Regions from separate parts of the Homo sapiens genome. Here all the other regions are linked to region 1. The links come from fine-mapping of genetic effects on gene expression. A gene starts in region 1. Each other region holds a variant in brackets. All regions are shown on one strand. Distances are between the middles of the regions. Region 1 holds the start of HNMT (histamine N-methyltransferase). Region 2 overlaps HNMT (histamine N-methyltransferase). Region 3 overlaps LOC105373636 (a long non-coding RNA gene).

What was found. PIP is the estimated chance that this variant, and not a neighbour inherited with it, causes the effect. A credible set is the group of variants that fine-mapping cannot tell apart.
Region 2: its variant is the best candidate, but not a certain one, in a credible set for the expression of HNMT in lung (TOPMed, PIP 0.53).
Region 3: its variant is the best candidate, but not a certain one, in a credible set for the expression of HNMT in skeletal muscle (FUSION, PIP 0.62).

What each region holds. Positions count from the first base shown.
Region 1 is chr2:137,963,322-137,966,089 of GRCh38, reverse strand. It overlaps HNMT (histamine N-methyltransferase), which reads right to left and starts at 1,617. Exons shown (of 6, transcript NM_006895.3): 1 at 1,462-1,617. The coding sequence starts at 1,598.
Region 2 is chr2:138,008,592-138,011,359 of GRCh38, reverse strand. All of the region lies in intron 5 of HNMT (histamine N-methyltransferase), which reads right to left. The region is part of intron 2 of LOC107985948 (a long non-coding RNA gene); the gene reads left to right. Among named protein-coding and RNA genes, the nearest start is that of HNMT, 46 kb to the right of the region's middle. The variant A/C (reference allele first, on the strand shown) is at 1,403.
Region 3 is chr2:138,046,014-138,048,781 of GRCh38, reverse strand. It overlaps LOC105373636 (a long non-coding RNA gene), which reads left to right. Exons shown (of 3, transcript XR_923367.2): 3 at 1,972-2,768. Among named protein-coding and RNA genes, the nearest start is that of LINC01832, 54 kb to the left of the region's middle. The variant G/TG (reference allele first, on the strand shown) is at 1,318.

The DNA of each region.
Region 1 (2,768 bases):
GTAACAATTTTAAAAGTCCTTCAGCTAAATCTTATTTCAAACATTACCTTCAGGAAAAAAATAAATGACACTGAATCTGATCATTCCTAACTATATACTACTGTTATAAGACAAACAGTGTGCCCTTAAAAATTCTTCAGTCTTTCACAGATTTTATAATATTTCCAGTTAGATTTAAACTTTGAAGATAAGGAAGGGGTCATTCATCATCGATTATGTTATCTCCATCCACGGTACCTCTTCAAACCAAACTGTGTATGGCTGAAGAAAACCAAGGATCTGGTAAGCTACAGACATGAGCAAATACTTTTAGTACTGAAAAAGAATTGAGAAATTAACTCATTACCTTTAACTTTAGAAATGAGCAAAGAAACCCAAAGAGGTTAACTATAATTAGTTCCTAGGTAAGAAGTTCTCTATATTTGCTATTTGCTTTGATGTTTGCATCCTTATCCTATTACATATTAATTTTTAATATATAATATCCTATTTTTTGAAAGCTAACATTTAAAATCTGAATCATGTTAAATAGAAAAGGAAATAAAATTTTATGTACATCTAATAATGCCTGCTCTGGTCAGACATAGGTACTGCCCTGGTGAAAGAATTTCAGGCCTGCAATAGAGAAATTCAGCAAAAGATAAAATACCACTTTCCTTTGCTGTTTGCAAATTGGATCCATAGTCATTTCTTCCCAGTTTTCCATTATTATTTCCTGAAGTAGAATGAGTTACAGCAAATCACCCCCAGATAGGTGATTTGATTATCTTTAGCATGTGGAATCTGTTACTCTCATAATGCTTATCAGCTCTGGCACAAATTGAACACATTAATCACCCAAAAAAAAGAACTCTGCAAGAAGGATAGGAACCAGTGAGTTTCACTGATAATGGGAAAATGGTTCTTTTTTTAAGGAACACATTGCTAATATTAAGCTGAAAGAAAAAGACAATTTTGAGGAAGAGAGTGATAACTATAACAATGGATAAGGAAAATTAATTTAAATGGATATTATGAGAACTGAGGCACTCAATCCTCAGGGCAAATCGTACTTTGGCAATTATTTATATTTGATTCTAATGAAAAGCATACCAGACTCCCTTTGGGACTTTTTTGGGATGTAAAATTTGGAGGAGGGCTGAAAAATCTGAGTTCGAAGATTAGCATCTTATCTTTTCCCAAATGAACATGGATTTGTGCCTTCAAATGGTTAACGCTTATCTCTATGCAGCTGGAAATACAACACAAATGGGAGCCTTTGAGTGTTCAAAGCAAACGTGGAACCAAAGCACTGCAGGAGAAAGGCAGGGCAGGGCAGCGAGGAGGGGACGACGGGGAGCTGCTATCAGTAATTCGCCCTTATCCCTGTGCCCAGCCTGCGAGGCTGAGCGAGACCCATCTATCACTGACGCACAGCCAGTCTGAGGCTTGTCCCTTTGACAACAACGTCCCTTTTGTTACCTTCCTATTATGCCTGGCAGCTTCTTGTCCATGAATTCCTGCATGCACTGGTGTTCCGTGGAATGGTTGAGAAACCTCCGGAAAGATTCAACATATTTCCCGTGGTCAGAAAACAAGCTCCTCATGGAAGATGCCATATTTGGTTTTCTGAGAAAGACAGAGCAGGAAGCAAGGTTTAAGTTCCCCTCCTTCTCTTCCCAGTTCCCTCTTTCTTTCCCCACCCCCACCAGTTTCTATCCAAAAAAAAAAAAAAAAATGCTAAGCTTGTTTTGAATTTAACATGCCACAAAGGCTGGCTTGTAGAGCTCATTACTGAGTCAATATTTGAACGGGACTTTGCACTGATACTTTAACCCCTATACGGTTGTTTTGTAAGAAATAGAAGTATTAAGCAAGGCTGTAAATCCACTGCTAAAACTTTTCAAATTCCTGAGGTTGAAAGGTCATAAAAACAAACTGTATTCAAATCACTTCCTGTTTTGTCAGCAAAGCCACAAGTAAGTTCCAAGTGGGAAAGTGACTGTTCGAAGTGGCAAACACCAGGATAAAGAGGACAGCTACACAGCACTCTCAGAAATCTACAGCAGTGAAATCTTTAACGGAAGACTGTCATCTGCCTCTGTGCTTTCTACGGGATTGTTTTGGGCCTTTACATTCCTCAGCACTTGAATTTTCAACTTATCTGCTGCATTTCTTCAAATGCTGATTTGTTGTAACTCAGAAATTATCTTAAAAGGAAGTCACGAAGGAGGAGCCCAAGAACTCGTAGCTAGAAGGTGTCAGAAGCTGCATTTAGGGGAATGAGAGTGGTAAGAGAAGTCTTGGAGCAAGAATGCAGGACACCAGGGTAAAAGTGCAGTCCATAGAATCCTTCCCTAAGCGCGCTGAACACGACGAGGTCATAGATACTTCGCTTGGCTGGATGAGCCTTTGGAAACCCAGTGGTGTCCCCACCAGAAGAGCCAAAGCTTCAGAGTACCCACACACAGTCTTTTTCCTGGGAAGAGGTCTTTAAGAAGGTCATCCTTTATCTAATATTGGGTTGTTAATAATAGCATCCAACTCATGGAGGAGTGCTGAGGATCAAATGAGTTAACTCATATAAGTCTCTTAGAAATATGTCTGCTTAAACCGTCCCTTCTTCTAATTGAGTTCCCAAGCTGCCCTCTAAGCATTCAAAACACTTCCCAACTCTCTTTTTTTTTTTGAGACAGAGTATCGCTCTGTCGCCCAGCCTGGAGTGCAATGGTGCGATCTCCACTCACTGCAACCTCCGCTTCCTGGACTCAAGTGATTCTCCTGTCTTA
Region 2 (2,768 bases), 45 kb before region 1:
GAGGGTTGTGAGTATTTATTTAAAAATCTTTTATTCCAAAGACAGTGGATTGTCTTCCTAAATAAGAGTTTGCCGGCAAACAAGACATTACAAGAAAATCAGCATTTCAGTGGTTGAAGAGAGGCTCTGTTATCATCATTATTATTATTTTTAACCTGGCAGAGAAAAAAGAACCAAACACTAATTGCAAAAAATTTGCTGGTGTCAGTGCTGTGACTCGGTGCCATTTCTGAGCTGAGCAATTATGCACTTCCCGACTAATGCATTATCATAATGGCTCTCGGTGGGCACAACATATGGTGTTACTTTTGTTTTCAACATGATGTAAGCCAGATTTTCTTTTTCTCACTGCACTAAAAATAACACACAATGATTTTCCTCCTTCCTTACTCAGGTAAGGAGAGGACAGACAGAAAGCTTCAGTGATCTCCTTCTGGCTCATCTCCCTTAACCAGACAGGCTGCCTTTTAAACAGCAACCCTCCCAATTGATGCTTGGCTATCACATTTGCAGAAAAAAACTTTTCTTTGATACCATTTTAGTGTGGGATACTCCACATTTTTTAAAGAAATCCAACTCTCTTGTTCTTATATCTCTTCTTTTTTATCCCCAAATCAAATTTCTTTCATCTCCATTATCAGGAACTTCTACTAGTTATCACTAAATGACAGTCTCTTGAGTTAGGGTAATTCTGTAATGGATATTTAGAAACACAGAGGAAAGGTTGATTTCCATCAAGCAACATATATTTCCATAAGCTGACCAGTAAATGTTGTCATTTAATTCTGATTTCAATTTCTTTTTCTTTCCCTAAAAATACACAAATAGTTTTAGTTGTTTGTTCTTTATTGCTTTTGTCTGGCTGCTTCCATTTGCTGTGTGTGTGTGTGTGTGTGTGTGTGTGTGTGTGTGTGTGTGCGTGTGTCTTTTTTATTGAGCCTTTTATTCCTATTTATTAAACTTCATCTGCAAATATCCAGAACTTCCTGTGTTCTCTGATTTCGTCAAGTCAGTTTTAGCTGAAATATATTCTCTTTTTTTGGATGTATATTCAGAGCTTATTGTAGTTCTGATATCATAAGGCAGAAATAATAAACAATTATTCAGTTCAATTAAAACATATTTACTAAGTATTGTCTCTGTGCCAAAGTCTTTACAAAGATGTAGGAACAGAGATGAATGTCCCTATATGCCTCCCTATATACCATGAGTACTCAGTTTTGTGCATTGGAGAGCAGCTATGGATGACAATATTACCCTGAAACAAATGAACATACACAGAAGCATCTTCCCTTTTAGGTAATTATGAAGCAAATTCCATTAAGAAAGTGACCCAAAGAATCTTAATAAAAACAGAACTTAGTGTAAACCAATGTGGTATAGACATTCCAAGTTCTGGGTC[A/C]ATATTCAACTTTAGGAAATGTTTCAATCTGTTGAGTAAATGAAAAATGGGGTTTAAAGAATTATAGCTCTGGTGGAGAAGGCAAGCTAGGCAATGGTTCCTAAACAGGGGTAAGGAGGGATGTAGATGGAACACCTCGGCTGATGAGGTTTCTCAAACTTGTTTTCTTTCCACTGACTAGTCTAGCAGATAGGGATTTGAAGCTACATCATTGAAAGAAAACAATGAGTAGTAATTTTGTGGATCATTCCTATGTGTGTTCACTGACATCAATATGAAAATGTCTGATTGGAAATTTCTTGTGATCAAATTTGTTTCCAATGTTGGAAACTAGACTTGATCTATTTTTCCAAAAGCTGACCAATATATTTCTATTGGGTATGTTAATACAACAAAGCAACTATTGCTATTTTTTTAAAATAGGAAACTACCATCACCCTCATCATACACTGAGGGGGGCAAAACAATTTATCTCAGGGAAATGTGTTGTTGTTAAGACAAGTTCATGTGTGCACAGGTTTATCTAGGTGATAGAAATAGAACAAAAGGGATTTAAACTACTCTATAAGAGGGTTGCTGGGTCAACTGGTAGTTCTGCTTTTAGCTCTCTAAGAAATTGCCATACTGCTTTCCACAGTGGTTGAACTACTTTACATTCTCACCAACAATGTATGTGTTCCTTTTACTCCACAACCTCATCAGCATCTGTTATTTTTTGTCTTTTTAATAAATAGTCATTCTGACTGGTATGAGATGGTATCTCATTGTGGTTTTGATTTTCATTTCACTAATGATCAGTGATGTTGAGCTTTTTTTCAAATGCTTCTTGGCCACATCTCTGTCTTCTTTTGAGAATTGTTTATTCATGTCCTTTGCCCACGTTTTAATGGGGTTGTTTCTCTCTTGTAAATTTAAGTTCCTTATAGATGATGGATATTAGACCTTTGTCAAATGCATACTATGCAAATATTTTCTACCATTCCGTAGGTTGTCTGTTTATTCTATTGATAGTTTCTTTTGCTGTACAGAAGCTCTTAAGTTTAATGAGATGCCATTTGCCAATGTTTTTATTGATTTTAGTGTCTTTGTCACAGAATCTTTGCCTGTTCCTATGTGCAGGATGGTATTGCCTAGGTTGTCTTCCAGGTTTTTATAGTTTTAGGTAGTCTTTAAGCCACATTGAGTTGATTTTTGTATATAGTATAAGGAAGGAGACTGGCTTCAGTCTTCTGCATATGGCTAGCCAGTTATCCCACCACCATTTATTGAATAGGAAGTCTTTTCCCCATTGCTTGTTTTTGTCAGCTTTGTCAAAGATCAGATGGTCGTAGGTGTGCGGCCTTATTTCTGGTCTCTCTATTCTGTT
Region 3 (2,768 bases), 83 kb before region 1:
TCATGCTGCTGATAAAGACATACCTGAGACTGGGTAATTTATAAAGGAAAGAGGTTTAATTGACTCACAGTTCCACATGGCTGGGGAGGCCTCACAATCATAGCTGAAGACAAATGAGGAGCAAAGTCACTTCCTATGTGGTGGCAGGCAAGAGAGCTTGTGTAGGGGAACTCCCCTTTATAAAACCATCAGATCTCATGAGACTTATTCACTATCATGACAATAGCATGAGAAAAACCTGCCCCCATGATTCAATGACCTCCCACCAGGTCCCTCCCAGGACATGTAGGGATTATGGGAGTTACAGTTCAAGATGAGATTTGGGTGAGGACACAGCCAAACTATATTATTGGTCTAGTGAAAAACTGCAGTGCTGGACATTATCAGCCAGATTCTTCAGTGACATTTTTTGGTAATAAAATCCCATTGGCTAAAGAAACTGAAACAGAAGGATTAGAAAGGCAGCTTCTCCATCTTTGGACATGGAAATCAAAGGGGAAGAGGATGGCTAACACTTTTCTAAACTTCTTCCAGGGGATTGATCTAGTTTTATTTCAATTTGGAGAAATAAAGTGTGTCATCAAACTTGCATCCTGAACTTTTACATTTTTGACCATGTTTTTACTGTTAAGGCAGTTATGCATGTGTGCCTATATACACAGATAAGGTCTGGGGAAGACTGTGAAGCTGCAATGGGAAAATACATAACAGTATAAAATATAAGCATAGTGATTTAATCTGTTTGCAGATAATGTCAGCCTTACTTCAAAGCAAGTTCTAGTTGCTATTTAGTCTTCCATTGTCTTGAAGGATCTTTTGGAGGGAAGAATAACAGAATGTTTGACTTAGAAGGAACTTGGAAATTGTACAGCACTTTCATATGATGTAGAAGTATCCTAAAGCCAGTGCAGAAGTGAGACCTGATAATGGTCACATGGAGTAAACAGCACCAGTGAGACTGGAATCGGATGTTTCTGTGCCACTTCGTTCTGATCAAAAGCTACCTATAGTAACTACTCAAAGATAGCATTCTTTGCTTTCTTCCTAAGCATCAGGCATGCTTTATTTCAAGCTGTTTCCTTTGCAAAATTATTACTTTGCAAATATTAGCAGCTATGTTGGAAAACAACACAATTTCAGTGTTCGCTATGATATGAAAGGAGAAGGAAAGCTTTGCAAATATTTTTCTAAATATAAGTAATCCTAACTATGGGGCTAATCATTTTCCTGTCACCTTCATCCTCAATCTTAGTCTAAAAGTATATGCTGTTGAAAAACTTGTTCTGACAAGTACTTTTTTTTTTTTTTTTTTTTTTT[G/TG]GATAGCAACACTTTTCTTTGCATCTCTTCAACTTTGGGCATCTGCAGGTCCTGCTTTGGCTTTGTTCCTAATTACTATATTATTAGCTGATTTTCATCTATTCTTGGCCATTTAGCCTACGTGGACTTGTTTTTTCTGCCCTACTAATTAGGAGTTGAGCAGTGGGGTAGCCAAAACAAGACTGCCCAGATTCAAGAGATAACCTCATTCAGTATCAATTTTCTCATTTCAACAAACTAGGGCTTCTTACATTTTGATGCATTCGCTTTCAATCCTAATCCGCTATTTAATAAACCTCCCAAATTAACAACCCTGGGTCCATGTGGCTTATCCAAGAGAGCCCTGTGAGCTCCTGTTAATTCAATCTCAGTGGCAGAGTCTGGGCTTGATCTGCTTCCTGAGAAGCTGTATCTAGTTTTAAGCTTCTGTGTTTGGCAGCTTCACTTGGAGAGAATTTACTAATAACTCAGAGTGTAGTTTCCTCTGGGTGCCTCTGAGTGTGTGTAGGTTTTACATACCACAAGAGAATGAAACTATTGATAAAAGTTGAGCTTTACTTCACTAAATAGGAAACTCACGCTGGATGGAAAAGAAACTTAGACTCTTTGAATTGTTCCCATTAAATCTGAAAAGTCCTAATTAATTCTCTTCAGTGGTCTGCATTTCCAACCATTTATGGATTACAGTAGAACAAGGAAAACAGGGCCTATGAAGAACCCCCACATGGTTGAATGCTCATCTGTTGCTGTCTTGAAACTCTAAAAGCTGTAATCTTTGAAGGTATGTTTTGAATGTGCAACCTTGAAGCATGTGGTTGAACAAAGGATGTACATGGAAAAAAGGTAAATGCTTTCCCCTGTAATGACACTGTTGTCCAGCTTTTTGAACAAGGCTCTCCCTTTTTCATCACTGCCCCGAGTAAGAATGAGGAATATATCAGAGTCCCTACTTCAGCATGGCCATTTGTACCCACATATGGCCCTGTAACCTTCTGTCCTGGCTTGCATCCTACTCACACATCACCTTAATGACTCAGGTTCTCTTTTTCTCTCCTTCACTAGCAGTTGTTTAAAACTATTTATTTAGCACTCGCTCTATGCCAAACACCATACCCAGCACTTCACCCACATCGCTCATGGAATCACCATAGTGGCTCTCTGGGATCAGTGTTCTCATTATTCCCATTTTATAGGTGAGGAAATTGGAATTTAGGTTAATAACTTGTCCTGAGTCACATGGTAAATGTTCGAATGAGGATCTGTTAGGGTTTGAATCCTGACAGATTAAAGTCAGAGCCAACGCCCTAGAAACATGAATACAGGAAAAACAACATTTTAAAAAATGCCCAACTCAAGAATATGATCTGAATATTACACCCTAATTAATCCACTCCATGATTTCATCAGTGGTCTTTTAACATTTTATTGATTTATTTTTGCTTTTTTAAAAA